4 separate regions of the Homo sapiens genome follow, and all the other regions are linked to region 1. Evidence: fine-mapped expression QTL. A gene starts in region 1. Each other region holds a variant in brackets. All regions are shown on one strand. Distances are from middle to middle.

Region 1 (5,146 bases):
GTTTTTATGCCTCATTGCATAGAATTGAAGAGGCAGAACAGGCCAGACAAGGATAAAGTGACTTCATATTTGTTGGAGGTCAGTTTTATATGCTGGTGTATTGTTCTGGGTGAAAGCACCTAGAACAATTAACCCTCACAACTTAATCCTCACAATTACCTTGCAAAGGAGGTCTCATTTCCTACTCATTTTAAAGATATGACAGTAGTTTCAGAGAGGTTATGCAATTTGCCCAAGGCCACACAGCTGAGAAGAGGAAAAGCTGTGGGTGGTAGAGCTGGGATTCGTGGACTGTCTGACCTCAAAGCTTGTGTGGGTTCTGCAGCCCCGTCCTGCATCGTGCCATGGGGTCCATGCACAGTGTGCACAGCATGTCAGTCGCAGAAACAGGAGTAGGTCCCAGGTCTCTGCATACCTGCTGCTCCCTGACGATATCATCTAGCGTTCTGTTTGCTCAGGGCCTGGATTTGGCTTCTGTCCTGCCCTCCCAAATTCCCACTGGAGACTACTGCTGGGGAAGTTATGGTGCACAGGAAAGAGGATGAGAAAGTGGGGAAGACCAGGCTTTCGACTAGCTGAGAGGTAGGGCTGGGGAGCACGCACCTAGGAAGGCTGGCTTCTGTAAAGTAATTGGGAGGTGGGGGTTTGTGTTTCTCCCAGATCCAGCTGTCTGAGAAGTTCAGGAAAGTGTGGCTGTCCCCTCCGCCCACCCCAAACACACTCCCACCTTCACAGACCCTCCCAAGGACAGACTTCCCAGACACAGATCCGGAGGTGGCTCACAGATGTGCAGGATCAGATTCAAGGTGACACGCACCAGCATACACAGAACCACAGGGCTGCCCGGGCCCGGACTGCCCCACAGAGGCGGCAGATGCACACAGAGGTCAGCCACAGCACCCCACATGGAGGGCTGCTCACCCACAGAGGTGCAGAGGGTGCCACCTCCACCAGCCACCTTGAAGGTACCTTGGAGATTGTCAGGAAGGATGGGGAGGGCATAACAGTGTTTTCTCTGTAACTCCCCTCTCCCCCGCCATGGAAGGAGTCCCACTCTTAAAAGGGAGCTCTGGCTCCTTTCCTACCATTTGTTCTTTCACCAGGCTCAGTTCAGTTCCCCTCTGGCCTGGGGAGGTGTGGGGTGGGGGAGGGGCCGGAGTGTAGACCGCGAGAGGGAGAAGGGGAGGAGGAGGGGACGGCAGGAGCCTGTCCAGGGCTTCCGGGCGGAGTGCAGTCAGGGGGGCCTCGACAACCTCACTTTGCCGTACCAGTGGCAGCCCAGATGGTGGGAGCAAGGTGCTTATTCAACTGCTGCCAGGATTCCTTGGTCCTGGAGGTACTGGGAACAATGGTGGGAATCAGAGGAGGGGACAAGGTTGGGTGGCCAACCTCTAGAGTGGTGGGATTTGGGAGACTCGGACTGGGCCACTGTCAGAGGGGGCTGACACCTGTTATAGTGCCCCTGTGGCGGACCCTTCCTCCAGGTCAGGGTCCCCAGCTGATGTGTCTGTCTTGCCTCAAATCCTTCCAGACGGCGTATGTGTCAGATGAGGAGCAAGGGGAACTAGGCAGCCAGGGGAGACGAGGAGGGAATGGGGAGCTTGGGAACACTTCTGCCAACAACCACGTGACCCCCGGGGAATGGCTGGGGAGGGGTCCCTCCTGCTGTCCCCACCAGCCCATTTGAGCAGGGGCTAGCTTGAGGCATCCCCATCCTGTCTCCCCTCTGCTCATGCAGGCGGAGGGCTAAGGGCTGGCCTGACCACCTTACCGTCTGCGGGGGGCTGCCCACGGTCATCTCCACGTAGTAGCCCTGCCCCGACTTGCCCCTCAGGTTGTCCACCATCTCCACAAAGCTGCCCCTCCGGCCGGGCTCCTCGGGCTCTTCGTCGGTCTCCCGGGGCAGCCGCAGCCCCAGGGGGGCGCCCCCCAGGCCGCTGCGCAGGGGCAGCCGGATGCCGTGCTGGGTGCCGTGGGCAGGCAGCACTCCCGCGCCCATCCACAGCAGGAGCCAGGGCAGGGCTTGGGCCATGGTGGGCCCCGGCCTTCGGGCCCTCTGGGCTCGCACTGGCCCACGTCCGTCCCTGGCGCCTGCCCCCAAGTCTGGGTGGTGCTGGTGGCTTCTCAGGAGAGGGAGCTTGGGGGCATCAGGACGCCAGGGCCTGCAGGGCCCTGGGCCAGCCCCCGGGTCCGGGCTGTGGAGAGCGGTCAGGGGAGATCCGCAGAGCACGGGAGCAGGGGAGAGGCTGGGATCCGGAGCCCGCTACATCGGCACGGCGGCGGCCAGCCTGGGCAGCGGGCGCGGGCTCCCGGCGGGGCTGGGAGGGGCGGGCATGGCGGGCCGGTGGCGGCTTCCCTGGTCCCCCCGGCGGGCGGCGGCGCGGGCAGGGGCAAGGGCTCCGGGCTCCTGCGGCTGCGTTGGCTGCTCAGGCCACCATAATCCAGCTCGCGGCTCGCAGCTCCCGGGCGGGCTGGGGAGGCGGAAAGACTTGTGGCGGCGGCTGTCAAAGCCAAAAGGTTTTCGCTTTTCCCTGGGATCGCTGGGAAGTGTAGTCTTCCCATGGCAGGCAATCCGGCTTCCGGGGCTGGAGAGGGGTCTGGGATGCCCTCTGCCGAGGTGGAGTCCGCCCTGCAAGGCCCTGGCGGGAAGGGCCAGACGGATGGAGAGGGGCACACCTCCCGTCTGTCAGTCTTTCTTTCAGCATGGAAGGAGCACCCACTGTATGCCAGGCACACTGCCAGGCGCTGGAGATACAGAGAGAAATAAACGGTGATTCTACACGGGACAGTTAAGTGATTCCTGCCGCGGTGGGGTTTCACACTATACGATGTGGCATTAAGGAGTAGGGATTTGGAGGGACATCTAGGGGATCTGGGAAGACTCAGTGGGAGAAGGTGGTATTTAATTTGAGCGTTTAAAAATGGGTAGGATTTTCACGAGCAGAGATTGAGGGAGCAGGATGAAAGGGGAGGAAGAGTTTTTCCAGGCTGCAAACCAGCGGAGCAGGGTCCAAAAGGGGAAAGTGCAGTTGTCTTATTTTCTCCTGCGCCTGCGATCTGCGGGCAGGTAAGAGCCAGTGGGTCTTCTCCCATCTGAACCTGTTTGTGCCCTTGAGGCTCTACTTGAATCCTTATGGCTCCTCTGATTTTCTGCACCATCAGCCAGACTGAGGAGAAATGGCTGTTGATAGCTTTAAAGTGTTAACACTCCGAAAAGTATCTCTATATTAACTGGTAAGAGCTTAAAGCCTTGAACCAAAAGCGTTAGAGTTCTAATAGCTTAAAGGAGAAAAGCCGGTATGGTTTTAACAATATATTGTTTATCAAATGTGGAAAGCCATTGATAAAATTCAGCAGTTACTCTGATTTAATTTTTTTAAAAAATGAAAGGGAATCTTCATTTTTCTTTTGAAAAGGAGACTTGCTCTGTCACCCAGGCTGGAGTGCAGTGGCATGGTCTCAAGTCTGCAACCTCCGCCTCCCGGGTTCAAGCAGTTCTCATGCCTCAGCCTCTGAGTAGCTGGGATTACAAGCATGCGCCACCATACCCAGCTAATTTTTGTATTTTTAGTAGAGATGGGATTTCACCATGTTGGCCAGGCTGGTCTCGAACTCCTGGCCTCAAGTGATCCGCCCACGTCGGCCTCCCAAAATGCTGGGATTATAGGCATGGACCACTGTACCCAGCCAGGAAACTTTTTAAACAAGATAACGACAACAACAACAAATGTAGTAATAACAGGCTACGTTACTCCCATTAAAGGCAGGCTTTGGAAAGGAAAGATCATTATCTCTACTCTTTTTTTTTTTTTTTTTGAGAAGGCGTCTCGCTTTGTCGCCCAGGCTGGAGTGCAGTGGTGGGATCTCAGCTCACTGCAAGCTCTGCCTCCCGGGTTCAGGCTATTCTCCTGCCTCAGCCTCCCGAATAGCTGGGACTACAGGCGCCTGCAACCACGCCCCGCTAATTTTTTGTATTTTTAGTAGAGACGGGGTTTCACCGTGTTAGCCAAGATGGTCTCGATCTCCTGACCTCGTGATCCTCCCGCCTCGGCCTCCCAAAGTGCTGGGATTACAGGCGTGAGCCACCGCGCCCGGCCGATCATTATCTCTACTCTTATCCTACACGGTTCAGACCGGTCTGATTGACTCAAAAGACAAGAAAATGGAAAAAGTGTTATATATGTTGGAAAGCAAAGGAATCATTAGTTGCAGATTATATGATATGGATAGAAAACCCTAATCAATAAGATGATTAGACACAAGTTAAAAAAATCGAAATCAAAATAGAGAAATGTATCTATGGGAATTGTAGATATGATAGAGATGGCATTCGTATTAGAGGAAAATGGACGCATTATTCAAAAACTGTTGTTGGGACGTCTGGCAGCCCATTTGGAAGGAAAAAAAACCAAATCCAATTTCATTCCTCTGAAAATAAACTCCAGATAGATTAAAGAATTTAACATTAAAATAAAACTACAGGAAAAATAGAATATTTTCATGATCTTATATTGAAGAAGACCTCCCTAACAAACCCTAGAAGGTAAACAAACCCAAAAACTGGATGGATTTGATGACTTAAATATTTAAAACTTCTGTAGAATCAGAAGTATTCCAATACCACCAGTGTTCTAATTCTGGTTCAATTAGTAACTGGGAGAGCCCACTCTGGTTACTTACTTTTTGAGTCCTTTTTTTTTTTTTTGAAACAGTCTCACTTTATCACCCAGGCTGGAGTGCAGTGGCTTCATCTCAGCTCACTGCAACCTCCTCCTCCTGGGTTCAAGCGATTCTTGTGCCTCAGCCTCCTGAGTAGCTGGGATTACAAGCGCACACCACCATGCCTGGCTAATTTTTTTTTTTTTTGAGACGGAGTCTCCCTCTGTCACCCAGGCTGGAATGCAGTGGCATGATCTCAGCTCACTGAAACCTCTGCCTCCTCAAGCGATTCTCCTGCCTCAGCCTCCCAAGTAGCTGGGACTACGGGCACGCGCCAGCACGCCCAGCTAATTTTTGTATTTTTAGTGGAGACGGGAATTCACCATGTTAGCCAGGCTGGTCTCTAACTCCTTACCTCAAGTTATCTGCCTGCCTCAGCCTCCCAAAGTGATGAGATTACAGGCGTGAGCCAACTTGCCTGGCCCCT
Region 2 (5,146 bases), 81 kb after region 1:
GGGGCACACAGCGAGGAAGCCTGAGCCCAGAGTGGAGGTTGTGGTGTGGCATGGTGGGTTCTGGAACCCCCTCCTGCCCCTCAGCTAATGCCTTACACTCTTTCTATGCTTATGTGTTTCCCTTTCTGGGCAGGAAAGGAAGCTCCAGGATTTAGAGTTGGACCTTGAAACCAGAGCTAAAGATGTCAAGGCCAGATTGGCTCTGCTGGAGGTCCAGGTGAGGGATCTGCAGGAGTCCTTGACCTCAGAGTCATAGCTTCTCTAGCAGAGGGCAGGCTCTGCCCCTCAGACCTGGGGTCTGCAGTCAGCCAGAAAATCCTGTCTCTTCCCTGCAAGGAGGAGACCGCCCGGAGGGAGAAGCAGCAGCTGCTTGATGTGCAGAGGCAGGTTGCTCTGAAGAGTGAGGTTTGTCTCCCTGTTTTGTCCTCCCTCCTGTTCTTCCTCCATTTCCTGTCTTTCTTCTCCCTGTTCCCCACATTTTGTTCATCTGATCTGTCCAGGGCACTGGGGTTCCAAACTCTGTTGGCCAGTATTCCACAAATAGTGCCACTCTGTGGACCCCACTTGGGAACCTCAAGGGAGTGGGACTGTGGTAGGACAGGAGCCTGCAGACCTCTTGACCTCAGAGGTGGTGACTTCAGTGGCTCTGAATTCATTCCCAGCCTGTCCTCCTTTGGCTTCCCTACCCTCTCGTGCTGTCTGCTCCCTGGCTTCTCTCTGTGCTGTCTCTGGGTGCTTCTATCTTTCCTTTTGCCCCTAGGAAGCCACAGCCACCCATCAGCAGCTGGAGGAGGCACAGAAGGAGCACACCCACCTGTTGCAGTCAAACCAGCAGCTCCGAGAAATTCTTGATGAGCTGCAGGCCCGCAAGCTGAAGCTGGAGTCCCAAGTGGATCTGCTGCAGGCTCAGAGCCAGCAACTGCAGAAACACTTCAGGTGGCGTGGGCACCCTGCACTTAGCCCTGCTGGCTGCCTCCTGCCTGCCCTCTGACCTCTGCTGCTTGTGTCATGGCCCAGTTAATAGGGAGAGGTGGAGTCCCAGCTTGGGAGCTAGGCAGAAGAGCCTGTGGCTACATTTTGTAGGGAGTTGGGGTTGTTAAGATTCTGTGAAAAGCAGGGGATCTCTGGTGCTATTGTTCGTGCCTGAGCCCTTCCTCAGGGACTTTGACGGATGGGAGTGAGGGGGTGGAGATGGTTCTGACCCACTTCACCCCTCCCCCCCATCGCCAGCCGCTGCCCTGCCTCTCACTCATCTTTCCTTCCACAGCAGCCTGGAGGCTGAAGCTCAAAAGAAGCAGCACCTGTTGAGAGAAGTGACAGTTGAGGAAAATAATGCTTCCCCACATTTTGAGCCAGATCTCCATATTGAGGACCTGAGGAAATCCCTTGGAACAGTGAGCTGGGGGCTGGGGCCTGGGGGCTGGGGCACCAGGATGGTGTGGGGCATTGGGAGGGGCTGGGCATCAGGGGAGTACTTCCAGAGGGGACAGCTCATCAGGAGGGGTGGAGCCTCAGGAGGGGAGGAGTATAAGGTGGGCCAAGGCATCAGGAAGGGCTGGCTCTGTTCTCTATGGGACCTGGTCTGTTCTTATTCCCAGCTACCAGTCGTCTCCACCAGTCAGATGATATCTATAAGTAAACAGTGCCTGGCAGCTAGAGAGCCATTTCCTTGTCTAGACCACTGGGAGGGGCTTTGGGGTCTTGAACCTGCAGGGTGTCTGCTTTTGCTACACTCAGTGGACTTTTCTACCATGTGTCCCTAGAACCAGACCAAAGAGGTGTCTTCTTCTCTCTCCCAGAGCAAGGAGGACTTATACTTGGACAGGTGAGTTCCCATAGCCTGTCTTATTTGAGGTTAGGGTACCATGAAGGGGTAAGTGAGTACCTGCATCATAGAGCTGGGGTGAGCTGAAGTGAGGAGACGGTGATCACCAGTGGGGCTTAGTTCATGGGGAAGGCTCCGGAGGATTAAGGAATCTTCTCTGGCAAGCCAAGAAACTGCCCACTGTGACCTTTGACATGGCATTCTCCTCTAGTGGAGAAGCAGATTGCTGGAAGTGTTTGGTCATCTATCTGGAGGCCCCAGGCCTGATCCCTCTCAGAGTCAGGGTGGGGGCACTGTCAGTCCCAGGCACTGCGCACTGTGGGTATTGAACAGTGGCATCCCTGCACTCACAGTGCCCAGCCCTAGCCCAGCAGCTCTGGTCTGTGCTCAGGGTTGGCATCTGCTGGGGAAGGGGCTGTGTGACCCAGAGCAGAGTTCTTAGAGGCTTCTGTTTTCCTTCTTCAACTCTCCTGCTCCAGCCTGTCCTCCCACAATGTCTGGCACCTCCTCTCTGCTGAGGGGGTAGCCCTCCGTAGTGCCAAGGAGTTCCTTGTGCAGCAGACACGCTCCATGCGGAGGCGGCAGACAGCTCTGAAAGCTGCCCAGCAGCATTGGCGCCATGAGCTGGCCAGTGCGCAGGAGGTGGCCAAAGACCCACCAGGCATCAAGGCCCTGGAAGATATGCGCAAGAACCTGGAGAAGGTCAGGAGCTTTGGGAAGGGCCTGCCAGCCCTGTGTGGGGGAGGCGGGGGGAGTCAGCAAAACAGTCCTTTGGGCTCCCCCTCAGTTGGTCATTCTCGGGACTCCATGAGAGTGGCCACCTTGGCCCTGGGTCACTTATATTTACTTGGCAATGCATAGTATGCAAACACCTTTTCTAGTAGTAAATAATTTAAACCTCATGATAACACTATTAGTCCATTTTCATGCTGCTGATAAAGACATACCTGAAACTGGGAAGAAAAAGAAAATTGAACTTACAGTTCCACATGGCTGGGGAGGCCTCAGAATCATGGCAGGAGGCGAAAGGCACTTCTTACATGGTGGCAGCAAGAGAAAATGAGGAACAAGCAAAAGCAGAAACCCATCATAAACCCATCAGGATCTCGGGAGACTTATTCACTATCACGAGAACAGTATGGGGGAAATGGCCCCTGTGATTCAAATTATCTCCCACCAGGTCCCTCCCACAACACGTGGAAATTATGGGAGTACAATTCAAGATGAGATTTTGGTGGGGACACAGAGCCAAACCATATCATTCCACCCCTTGCCCCTCCATATCTCATGTCCTCACATTTCAAAACCAATCATGCCTTCCCAACAGTCCTCAAAGTCTTAACTCATTTCAGCAT[T/C]AACCCAAAAGTCCACAGTCCAGAGTCTCATCTGAGACAAGGCAAGTCCCTTCTGCCTATGAGCCTGTAAAATAAAAAACAAGCTACTGACTTTCTAGATACAGTGGGGATACAGGCATTGGGTAAATACAGCCATTCCAAATGGGAGAAATTGGCCAAAACAAAGGGGTTACAGGGCCCATGCAAGTCTGAAATCCAGTGGGGCAGTCAAATTTTAAAGCTCCAAAATGATCTCCTTTGACTCCATGTCTCACATCCAGGTTACGCTGATGCAAGAGGTAGGTTCTCATTGTCTTGGGCAGCTCCGCCCCTGTGGCTTTGCAGGGTACAGCAATGCAGCCAGAAGGCAAACCCTTCCCAGCTGCCTTCCGAGGCTGGCATTGAGTATCTGCGGCTTTTTGAGGTGCATAGTGCAAGCTATTGACGGATCTACCATTCTGGGGGTCTGGAGGACGGTGGCCCTCTTCTCACAGCTCTATTAGGCAGTGCCCCAGTAGGGACTTTGTGTGGGGGCTCTGACCCCACATGTCCCTTCTGAACTGCCCTAGCAGAAGTTCTCCATGAGGGCCCCACCCCTGTAGCAGACTTTTTTCTGGGCATCTAGGTGTTTCCATACATCTTCTGAAATCTAGGCGGAGGTTCCCAGACCTTAGTTCTTGACTTCTGTGCAGCCGCAGGCTCAACACCACATGGAAGTTGCCAAGGTATGGGGCTTGCATCCTCTGAAACCATGGGCCAAGCTGTACCTTGCCCCCTTTTAGCAATGGCTGGAGTGGCTGGGATGCAGGGCACCAAGTCCCTAGGCTGCACACAGCATGGGGACCCTGGGCCTGGCCCACGAAACCATTTTTTCCTCCTAGGCCTCTGGGTCTGTGATGGGAGGGGCTGCCCATGAAGACCTATGACATGTCCTGGAGATATTTTCCCCATTGTCTTGGAGATTCTGCTCCTTGTTACATATGAAAATTTTTGCAGCTAGCTTGAATTTCTCCTCAAAAAATGGGTTTTTCTTTTCTTTCTTTTTATTTTTTAATTATACTTTAAGTTCTGGGATACATGTGCAGACCATGCAGGTTTGTTACATAGGTATATACGTGTCATGGTGGTTTGCTGCACCCAACAACCGGTCATCTGCATTAGGTATTTCTCCTAATGCTATCCCTCCCCTAGCCCCCAACCCTGACAGGCCCCGGTGTGTGATGTTTCCTTCCCTGTTTCCATGTGTTCTCATTGTTCAACTCCCACTTATGAGTGAGAACATGCAGTGTTTGATTTTCTGTTCCTGTGTTAGTTTGCTGAGAATGATAGTTTCCAGCTTCATCCATGTCCCTACAAAGGACATGAACTCATCCTTTTTTATGGCTGCATAGTATTCCATGGTGTATATGTGCCACATTTTCTTTATCCAGTCTATCATTGATGGGCATTTGGGTTGGTTCCAAGTCTTTGCTATTGTGAACAGTGCTGCAATAAACATATGTGTGCATGTGTCTTTATAATAGAATGGTTTATAATCCTTTGGGTATATACCCAGTAATGGAATTGCTGGGTCAAATGGTATTTCTGGTTCTAGATCCTTGAGGCATCACCACACTGTCTTCCACAGTGGTTGAACTAATTTATGCTTACACCAACAGTGCAAAAGCATTCCTATTTCTCCACATCCTCTCCCAGCACCTGTTGTTTCCTGACTATTTAATGATTGCCATTCTAACCAATGTGAGATGGTATCTCATTGTGGTTTTGATTTGCAGTTCTCTAATGACCAGTGATGATGAGCTTTTTTTTTATGTGTTTGTTGGCTGCGTAAATGTCTTCTTTTGAGAAGTGTCTGTTCATATCCTTTGCCCACTTTTTGATGAGGTTGTTTGTTTTTTTCTTGTAAATTTGTTTAAGTTCTTTGTAGATTCTGGATATTAGCCCTTTGTCAGATGGGTAGATTGCAAAAATTTTCTCCCATTCTGTA
Region 3 (5,146 bases), 110 kb after region 1:
TCCTTTCAGTCTTATCAACCTGGCAGCATGGGAGTTATTCTCGCATTTCATAGAAGCGGAAATTGAGGCCCATGAGGGCGAAGGTGCTTTCCCGAGGTCACAGAGCTGGCAAGGGAGCAGCAGGATTGACTCCGCAGCCCCTGCGTTTCCATCGCAGTGCCCGCCACATAGTAGGAACTCTACACATGGCGCCTTCTGGGGGCCGCCTGGCTTTCTGGAAAGGATCCGAAGTGGTTTGGTGAGCACCGGCTTTGGAATTCAAACCCTGGCTGATGCCTCTTGCCGGCTGAGTGGCCTTGTACAAGTCACCTGACCTCTTTGACTTCTTTCTTAGCCAATAAAATGGAGATCACACATCTTCAGGGCAGAAATTACAAACACATTAATTTCCCATCCATAGATCCTTCCCACGAATCACCAAAGAGGAGGCCTGCCTTGCCTGCGGTTTCTCCCACCTCCTCTGCCTCCCCTATGCCCAACTGTTGCTGTTTCCTAATGGAAAATGGGGGGAAATGAATGTGAGAGAACATTCCCCAGAGGAGAGGAGGGCGGAGCTGAGCAGGGCTGGAGAAGAGCAGGCAGTGTGTGGGGGGATGTGGGAGGCACAGGCTCCGTAGGGTGTCAGCGGGTGTCACTTACATCTGCTCTTCGGACCCCTTCAGGATCACAAAAACAAAAGCAGATAACTTGAGTTATTTAAAACTTTCGTTTTGGTGGCTGAGTGGATTGAGGTTCTTTGACTGGCACTACGGCCCTGAGACACCACCACTTGGGTTTTGTGCTTATAGGAGTTACTCTTTTTTACAGGGTAGTGGTAAAACTAGGAGAGTATCCGTGCTAAGTGGTTATCAGGGTGCTTGACTCAAGTAGACTCTCAGCAAACGGCAGCAGGCATGATGGTATTCTGTTGTGTTGTTTTCTTGTAACTTGGGGACACTATGCGGAGAGAACCAATGTTTCAGGAGATCTCGGCCTTCACTGGTCTACTCCTTGCCCGTTTCTCCCACTGTTTACCCTTTGTTCATCTATGTCTAACATATGTTGTGCTCCTATTAAGTCAGGCACTGTCCCTTCTCTGGAAGAGACAGTGGAACCCTTCTCTGCCCTTGGGGAGCCTGTCTGCTGAGGACGATGTTCAAATACCATCTGTGGAGGGCTTCTGAGTTGGGAAGGGATGAGACTTGTTTTGTGGTGCCCCCCAGGAGTGGCAGTACCGAGCCTTGTGAGTAGAAGTTGGAGGGGCCACCCAAGCTTAGTGTGAGGGAGGTTTTGCTGTTAGAGCTGTCACAGGTGAGATGTGCTGGCTGGGGAAGTGATGAGTTCTCCATCAGGAGGTGTGCACGGGAAGGCCAGACCACTCTTGCTGATTGCAGATGGAATTCCCAATTTGGGTGGAAGCGTGGACCAGGTGGCGTTGAAGGTCTCTTTGAGTCCTGAGATTGTGCGATTCTTAGAGACACTAAAACCAAGTATGGATCACCTCCAGGGTAATCCAGCTGGCATCTATTCCTCCTTCGGCCTAGAGTATTGTTGTCATTGCCCAGAAGAGGACATGGATTCTGGGAGGAAGGACAGAGCCCTGACTCAGGGTTCATGCTCAGCCTGGTTCTCCCACCCTTCTCCTACAGACACACAGATGCCCTCCTCCTCTCTAAGCTCACCAGCGTCTCCCTTTGCCTTTCCCACCCTTTACCTGTATAGGAATCCAATATGTAGGGTAAGAGGAGGTGACATGGTATGGTGGGTGACATGGTATGGCAGGCGGTGCGGGGGAGGATGCCCTGGGCCTGATCTATCAAGGGAGAATTTCTATGGGGAGCCAAGTTCCCCTTCATCTCCTGCATAAATTAAGATGATGCTAATTGTTGTAAAATAAACTCCAAAGTATCGGTGCTTACTGCAAGTTTATTTCTTGCTCACATAAAGTCCAGCTGGCATTGAAGGGGATAGAGGGGCCTCTGCGCTACATCGATGTATAAGCCAGGGTGATAGAGGATCTGCCATCTTCAA[T/A]AAGTGGCTTCCAAGTTCACCTTGGGCATTGACTTACAGTTGGAGAGAGCAGAGGGTGGCCAGGGAAGTTTTTATGAGCTGGACCTGAAAGTAGCGTGTATCACTTATGCCACATTCCGCTGGTCAAAGCTCAGTCTCATCGCCTTCTCTGAGAATCGGGGGCCTGGAACTGTAGTCACGGGATGCGTAGCGACTTCCCCGCAACAACTGTGCACTGTGGAGGATCATGAGGCTTTGGCAGACAGCAAACCCTCCCTGCTGTTCCCTGACCCAGGCTTCCCTCCTTCCGCCTCCGCCAGTTTGCGCACACTCCGGGGAGTGAGCCTTTGAGCGCAGGAAGAGACCCACAGGGCCTTTGCATCTCCAGTGCCCAGCTCAGTGCCAGATCATTGGAAGTGCTTCTGGGTATTTGGTGAATGAACAAATACTTGGGTATCATTTCGCTTGTTAAAAATACAGATGCCACAAGGTCAGGAGTTCAAGATCAGCCTGGCCAACATGGTGAAACCCTGTCTCTACCAAAGATACAAAAATTAGCTGGGTGTGGTGGCGCATGCCTGTAATCCCAGCTACTCAGGAGGCTGAGGCAGGATAATTGCTTGAACCCGGGAGGTGGAGGTTGCAGTGAGCCGAGATGGTGCCACTGCACTCCAGCCTGGGCTACAGATTGAGACTCCGTCTCAAAAACAAACAAACAAACAAACAAAAAATACAGATGCCTGGGGGAAAACAGTTTGTTCGTTCCTCAAAAAGTAAGACATAGAATGAGCATGTGATTCAGCAGTTCCAGTCCTGGCTATATTCCCAAAAGAATTGAAAAGAGGGGCTCAAACAGATCCTTGTACACCTGTGTTCATAGCAGCATTATTCACAATAGCTGAGAGGCAGAAGCAACCCACGTGTCCACCAGGAGAGGAAATGAATGGAGAAGCAACATGTCGTAAATAATGGAATATCCTCAAACAGGAGTGGAATTCTGACACATGCTGCAACATGGATGCAGCTTGAAGACATGATGCTAAGTGAAATAAGCCAGAACCAAAAGGACACATATTGTATGATTCCACTTATACAAGGTACCCAGAATAGGCAGGTTCATACAGACAGAAAGTAGAATGGTGGTTGCCAGGTGCTGAGAGAGAGGAAGATGGGGAGTTATTGATTAATGGGTACAAAGTTTCTTTCTGGAATGATGAGAAAGTTCTGGAAATGGATAGTGATTTACAACAAGGTGAATATACTTAATGCTGCTGAATTGTACATTTTAAAATGGTTAAAATGGCGAATTTTATGTATCTTTTACCACCATAAAAATAGAAATGTTGGTCAGGTGCAGTGGCTCATGCCTGTAATCCCAGCACTTTGGGAGGCCGAGGTGGGCGATTGCTTAAGCTCAGGAGTTCAATACCAGCCTAGGCAACATGATGAAACCCCCTCTCTACTAAAAATACAAAAACTAGCCAGGTGTGGTGGCAAGTGCCTATAGTCCCAGTTACTCGAGAGGCTGAGGAAGGAGGATCACCTGAGTCGGGGAGATTGAGGCTGCAGTGAGCCGTGATAGCATCACTGCACTCCAGCCTGGGCTACAGGGCAAGTCCCTGTCTCAAAAAAAAAAAAAAAAAAAAGCCTAGGCCGCATACCAGCAAATTCCTATTCTGTTAGGATTGGTGAGAGCTGGGCTTCTGTATTGTTTAACGAGCTCCTCAGGTGAATCTGATGTGCATCTACGTTTGAGACCCACTAGTCTAGCTCTGGTTGTTGGTAGAATGGGGGAACAAGGGGTAATCTCTCTGAAGGTCTTCTAGAGGAGGGTTTCTCAAACGTTGATGTGCATATGGGTCCCCTGGGGATTTTGCTGAAGTGCAGAGTCTGATTCAGTGGTTCTGGCGTGAGGCCTGGTATTTTTTTTGCATTTGCAACAAGCTCCTAGGTGACGGTGGTGCTGGTGCCACTGGCCTGTGACCCACATGTAGAGTATCAAGGCTCTCAAGGGCAGATGGTCATCTTATCCATGGTAGACAAAGTGGAGTTTTGGAAAGGAGCAAGTGAATGTGTAAGATGACTGTTCCAGATACATAGAGTTCAATGAGGATGAGCTGGGGATGAATGAGGAGCAGGAGTGCCACTGATTTGTGAATTAGCTTCTGGGTGTGGATCAAACAGGCAGGCTTGTGGTTTAGCTAACAAACATATTAAGGGCCTGGCGCAGTGGCTCACACCTGTAATCCCAGCACTTTGGGAGGCTGAGGCGGGAGGATTGCTTGAGTCCAGGAGTTCGAGACCAGCCTGGGCAACATGGTGAAACCCTGTCTCTACGGAAAAAAAAAAGTACAAAAATTAGCCGAGCATGGTGGCATGTGCCTGTAGTCCCAGCTACTCAAGGGGCTGAGGCAGGAAGATCACTTGAGCCAGAAAGGTCGAGGCTGCAGTGAGCCGTGATCACACCATTGCACTCCAGCCTGGGTGACAGAGTGAGATGCTGTCTCAAACAACCCTGCAAAGCGTACTGAAGTTAGAGATTATTAGCAAATAAAATCGTGTGGATTTTGCTCAAGTATGCCTGAATTTCTAGACTTTGTGCTTTATAATAAGGGGCCTAGCCCAGTGGAATACAAGCTAGACTGGCCCACATCTTACTTTTCTGTTGCCTTTCCAAATCCTTCTCATCCTACAGAGTCCACCTCAGGTCCCAGACCTCCAACAGCTCCCCAGAGCTGAATTCCACCTTTTCTACCACCGCCCCTCACCAGGGTAAAGTACTTTGGAGCCCTTGATCCATCCTGTGCTGCATATTGGGTCACCTGCCTCAACTGTTTTTCTGCCCATGCGTCCAGCTTGCTCCCTGGACCTGGCGGACTCTTCCCCTGGCAACATCCTGGGGGAAGAACTGAAACTCTAATCTTTGAACAGTGGAACAGCAGGTAGTATGGCTCAGTAGTTAAGGAATTGGACGCTCATGAGTTTAAATCTCATTCCCATCTCTTCTAGCTCCTCTAACCTTCTCACCTGTCACGTGGTAATCGTGATACCTTTCTCCCAAGTCTGCAATGAGGTTACAAGCAGCACCTGGCACGTAGTATCGGGATCCGTCATGTATTTTCATGACAGCGTTCCCCTTCGGAGCCCTTAGGCTGCT
Region 4 (5,146 bases), 23 kb before region 1:
TTCCACTGGCCGCAGGTATTGCTAGGGGTAAGCAATCACAGGGTGAGTGTCTTCCTCACTCTCCTTCACCCCATCTCTGCCTTGTAGGCATCTATGCCCTTCCCTTTACCATCCCTGAGCTCTAACGGGTTTTCTGAGACCCCTTTACTGCTGGACACTACTCATCTGTTTTGTCTTCCAAGTTCTGGCAAGCCATACCTGCTCACTGTCTCCCAGTGTGTACTTTTAAGAGAGATCCCCCTGACTCAGGCTGGGACATACCTGCGGAAGGATGGTGATGCGGAAGGACTGGTTGGTAACCTCACCCATTAGGTAGAGTGAGATGACTGGGAAAATGTTCCAAGGGGTGGTGCCTGCTTGCCAGCACACCAGCTGCTCTCCTAGCCAGAAACCATCAGGGAACTTCTCCGTCTGTGTTGGCAAGAAGGGGATAACAATGAGGAAAAGCCTCTTTATCATCTCGCCCCTCCCATGTTCAGATACATTAACTGGGCCCTTCATTTGCTTTTCCAGTGAAATATCTAAAGTGGGGAGGGGTAAACCAACCAGAGGATTACAGGAAGAGAGAGGGAGTGTGATGTCAAACTTTTGTACCGGGGGATTGTGTGATGAGCAAAGTGACAGCCATAAAGGGGAAGAGTTTTTTTTTTTTTTTTGAAACAGTGTCTCACTCTGTTGCCCAGGCTGGAGTGCAGTGGCGCAATCATGGCTCACCGCAACCTCCACCGTCCTGAGTTAAAGTGATTCTCCTGTCTCAGCCCCCTGAGTAGCTAGGATTACAGGCGTGCGCCACCACACCCAGCTAATTTTTGTACTTTTAGTAGAGATGGGATTTCACCCTGTTGGTCAGGCTGGTCTTGAACTCCTGACCTAGTGATCTGCCCACCTTGGCCTCCCAAAGTGCTGGGATTACAGGCGTGAGCCACCACGCCTGGCTAGGGGAAGAGTGTTTTAAGAGCTCTGAGTAGAAGGGTCTAAGTGCAGACATCTTGGCTGTTGCTGAAGAATGTGACTCTCACCGCCTCCCTCTGACACTGTACCATCTCTTTTACCCCCATCCTTAGTCCACTCACGGAGGAGGCTGCCTTGATGGATTTGACTGCAGCTTCAAACACTTTCTTGGGCAAACGAAGGTTGGTGGTGCCACTGTCCACAATGCTCTTGTCATAGTTGTACTAAGAGGGAAAAGAGAGAGTTAAAAGAGTCAAAAGGTTTTTGATGCTGGGCTCTGGGCAGTAGGGGGTTACTGCTGGGGCCCCAGCTGGGTTGGCATCTTGGCTTTGGCACCTCCTAAGTGTACCTGCTTGGACAAGTTAACCTCTGTGCCTCAGTTCCTTCATCTCTAAAGTGAGGATAAAAATAGCACCTACCTCAAAGGGTTATTGTAAGGATTAAATAAATCAGCAATGTAAAGCACTTAGAATCGTGCCCAGCAGAGAGAAGGCACTTGGTAAATGTTTATTCTTGTTAATCTTGGGTGGGCAGGTAGTCTCCAAACTTGAAAATAAAAATACCTTGTTTAGTGCTTTTAACTTTTCTTTTCTTTTTTTTTTTTTTTTTTTTTTTTTTGAGATGGAGTATTAGCTCTGTCACCCAGGCTGGAGTACAGTGGCGTGATCTCGGCTCACTCTAACCTCTGCCTCCTGGATTCAAACCATTCTTTTGCCTCAGCCTCCCAAGTAGCTGGGACTACAGGTGCCTGCCACCACGCCTGGCTATTTTTAGTAGAGATGGGGTTTCACCATGTTGACCAGGCTGGTCTCGAATTTCTGACCTCAAATGATCTGCCCCCGCCTTGGCCTCCCAGAGTGCTGGGATTACAGCCACGCCCGGCCGCTTTTAACTTTTCTTAGTACATTTATATCTATTCTAATTTAACATACATAAGAATCTAGGGAAGGAAGACATAAATGATTTAGTTACCTTTTATTGAGTACTGCCAACCACAGAGATAAACACTTTACACATTATCTCTGATATTCTGAGAAAGTTGTTTTTACCTGTTTTGCAGATAAGGAAACTGAGACACAGAATAGTAACTGGCCTAAGGGTACATAGCTAGTACAAATCAGAGCTAGATTCAGATCTGGGTCTTCCTGACTCCAAAGACAAGACTCTTCATTCTATCACCCTGTCTCACAAAAGACTTGCCCAAGGCTACGAAGCAAGGCAGTGACTAGAGTCCAGACATCAGAACTAGTTCCATGTTTTTTTTTTCACTACCAGTCCCTAGGCCCCAAACCGCAGATCCTGCTGTGTGACCATTAAGCCCCTGACTGTTCTAGGCTCAACTTCCAACCCTTTCTGCAGGTCCTATTACCTCTGCCTCATCCTCCCAACATGATAACCAGAGTCTTCCTTCACATTGTACTGCCTACCCCCTTATGTTCCCAGGCTCTCCCTTGGTTTTCTTACCTCCTTGCAGTCCATTTTCAGATCCTGTCCATTGATCTCCACCCGCACAATGAT[C/G]ACCTCATAATACCACTCCCGCCGGATGGGTGTATACCAGAGACTGCCTGTGTACAGCGAGTGGTCGATACCTCCAATGATCTAGGGAAAAAAAGAGGCAGGTACCCGTGTCCTGGCACAGAAGGAGAGTGAGTCCCCCAAGGACCAAGCAATAAGATCAGTGATTTCTTGGGGTGGCAAGGTCTTCTACAGGCTACCCTTTTCATCTTCCTGCTTCTAAACAAATCATACCCAAAGTGATTTCTAGTTTCTTAAATGTGTTCAGGAGAAAAGACTTTCCGGGATTTTTAATTATTTGTTTCAGAATCATACAGCCCTTGATATAAAGTTATTTAAATCTAAACTGCCACAATAAATGTTGAATGAATGGTTATTTGTTTATATTATAAGTTTTATTTTCTCTGCTTATTGGAGAACCATTCACCATTGTTCTAATTAATTAATAAATAGACAAACTTCTTATATCTCTGCCTTCTGACCATCAAACTGAATAATTTTAATTCAACAGGTCTTATTTTCATTTCCTTTGAAATTTTCCTAATTGCCTTCCTTTCCAAGTTTACCATAGGTGCCTTGATTCCTTTCTGGAATAACGCAAAAAAGAAAAGAATGGAAAAATAAAGTAAGGGTAGGGAATATAAAGAGGTTCCTCCTGATTCTAAGTATCGGAGCCAAAACTGTGGTGTAGCTTTCAGGAAGGGGAGAGGATGGCACCCATCTCTCCCTCAATGCCAGGACCTCCCCTCTCTGAGGACCTACTCACCATGCTCCCTCCGACAGAGGCCAGCACTTCAGACTGGTTGAGGGGGAAGCCAGCACCACAAAGCTGCAGGGAGAAGAGGTTGGGAACGTGGGTCTGCTTTACCAGAGAGTCAAAGAAAGGCTCCAGGGAGTCGTCAGGCTTTGGCAGAAAGAGACAAGGAGTGAGTCCTCATACGGCCCTAAAGGCAGAGGCCAGCTTCCTGTCTAAACTGGAAGGCAAATTTGAAGGCTTGGGGGATGCTCCTTGGGAAAGACCATCTTAAGGCACTGAGATTTGGCAGAGGAAGGGTTAGCAGGAGCCCTGGCAATGCAAACAGGACAGTATTGATAGGTTCACAGATTCATAGATCTTTTTTTTTTTTTTGAGACAGAGTTTTGCTCTTGTTGCCCAAGCTGGAGTGCAATGTTACGATCTCGGCTCACTGCAACCTTCACCTCCTGGGTTCAAGTGATTCTCGTGCCTCAGCCTCCTGAGTAGCTGGGATTATAGGCATGCGCCAACATGCCCGGCTAATTTCTGTGTTTTCAGTAGAGATGGGGTAGATGGGGTTTCACCATGTTGGTCAGGCTGGTCTTGAACTTCTGACCTCAGGTCATCCGCTCGCCTTGGCCTCCCAAAGTGCTGGGATTACAGGTGTGAGCCACCACGCCTGGCCAGGTTCATATATCTTTGATCCCCCTATGCCTAACCTGCTTCAAATTTATGGGGGCCTTTATTAAAGATCTTAGAGTGGCTGGTCGCGGTGGTTCATGCCTGTAATCCCAGCACTTAGGAAGGCCGAGGTGAGCGGATCACCTGCGGTCAGGAGTTCGAGACCAGCCTGGCTAACATGATGAAACCCCATTTCTACTAAAAATAGAAAAAATTAGCCGGGCGTCATGGTGGGCGCCTATAATCCCAGCTACTCGGGAGGCTGAGGCAGGAAAATCGCTTGAACCGAGGAGGTGGAGGTTGCAGTGAGCCAAGATTGCACCATTGCACTCCAGCTTGGGCAACAAGAGTGAAACTCCGTCTCAAAAAAAAAAAGATCTTAAGAGTACATAGAAAGCACAGCCTATTCTTGTACCTATCACAGCTTCTGTCACTATGGTTCTGCCCTCTATAGGGCTAAAATTTAGACTGCCACCCTATACCCCTGTTAAATAATCCTTTAAACTGATTGTTGCCCTCCTTCTGCTAATTCCCCTTCTCTCTCCTAATTCCTTCTCTGTATAGTGCAGTGTGCATAGAGTGTGTAGGGCCAAGCCCTGTTCCTCTCACCCTGGCAATCTCAGCATAGGCCAGCCCCAGGATGCCTTCCCAGTTGGAGCCGTTGATGAAGAACTTGTCTGATTCAGTGATGGCAGCAATGTTGGCACGCACAGTGACGTTGGGGCCATGGGGGATGCTTACCAGGTCGGTGCCCAGCTCCCCTTCCCACTTGCCCTGGGTGTAGGGCACATACACACCCTTCCGGAGGTCCCGGTATGTGCTGGACCTGTGGAAAGAAGGCAGAGATCTGTGGATGCATAACCACAACTGGTATAAGGATCTAAGTTAAACTTACTCCCAAACACCACCTTATCTCATCTCAGGGGAATCCTAGAGTCTGCTTTCAGGCTGCTCAGCAAAACATCCCTAGACTCACCACCCAGAACAGAGTGTAAAGTGGGCTTGCAGATAGATGAAGGGAACCATTGGTGAGGCTTGCTCTCCTATCTATTGCTCATATTCCTAGATCTTGAGCTCAGGCCCTGTGAAGAACAAGCCTGGGCTTTGTGCATTGTGCCTGCTGCTGCTGCTGCTGCAGGGACAGCTAGTGGGCATCTCTTCCGCCCTCTGGCTCCGTCAAGCTCCCCGAGAAAAGGAACCATTGACTCTCTTACTGCCTTGGAACCTAGTGGTACCATCCGAGTGGTAGAGAAAGTGCCAGGC

Which allele goes with the higher level. Alleles are on the strand shown, and positions count from the first base shown. SD is a standard deviation of normalised expression in the study named. Not every link is listed here.
In carriers of allele G in region 4, the expression in testis of the gene that starts at base 2,493 in region 1 tends to be higher than with C alone (small effect, 0.40 SD a copy in GTEx).

What was found. PIP is the estimated chance that this variant, and not a neighbour inherited with it, causes the effect.
Region 2: its variant is fine-mapped to the expression of BACE1 in whole blood (GTEx, PIP above 0.99).
Region 3: its variant is fine-mapped to the expression of BACE1 in whole blood (TOPMed, PIP above 0.99).
Region 4: its variant is fine-mapped to the expression of BACE1 in testis (GTEx, PIP above 0.99).

The regions. Positions count from the first base shown.
Region 1 is chr11:117,313,764-117,318,909 of GRCh38, forward strand. BACE1 (beta-secretase 1) reads right to left here and starts at 2,493. Exons shown (of 9, transcript NM_012104.6): 1 at 1,772-2,493. The coding sequence starts at 2,032. RefSeq lists enhancers at 359-881, 882-1,403 and silencers at 1,932-2,041, 2,132-2,221.
Region 2 is chr11:117,394,787-117,399,932 of GRCh38, forward strand. CEP164 (centrosomal protein 164) reads left to right here. Exons shown (of 33, transcript NM_014956.5): 22 at 134-217; 23 at 337-405; 24 at 761-936; 25 at 1,268-1,394; 26 at 1,764-1,825; 27 at 2,305-2,527. Among named protein-coding and RNA genes, the nearest start is that of CEP164, 70 kb to the left of the region's middle. The variant T/C (reference allele first, on the strand shown) is at 3,181.
Region 3 is chr11:117,421,063-117,426,208 of GRCh38, forward strand. No RefSeq gene overlaps it. Among named protein-coding and RNA genes, the nearest start is that of CEP164, 96 kb to the left of the region's middle. The variant T/A (reference allele first, on the strand shown) is at 2,011.
Region 4 is chr11:117,290,639-117,295,784 of GRCh38, forward strand. It overlaps BACE1 (beta-secretase 1), which reads right to left. Exons shown (of 9, transcript NM_012104.6): 3 at 4,493-4,709; 4 at 3,233-3,370; 5 at 2,416-2,550; 6 at 1,074-1,175; 7 at 262-411; 8 at 1-21. It also overlaps BACE1-AS. Among named protein-coding and RNA genes, the nearest start is that of BACE1, 23 kb to the right of the region's middle. The variant C/G (reference allele first, on the strand shown) is at 2,470.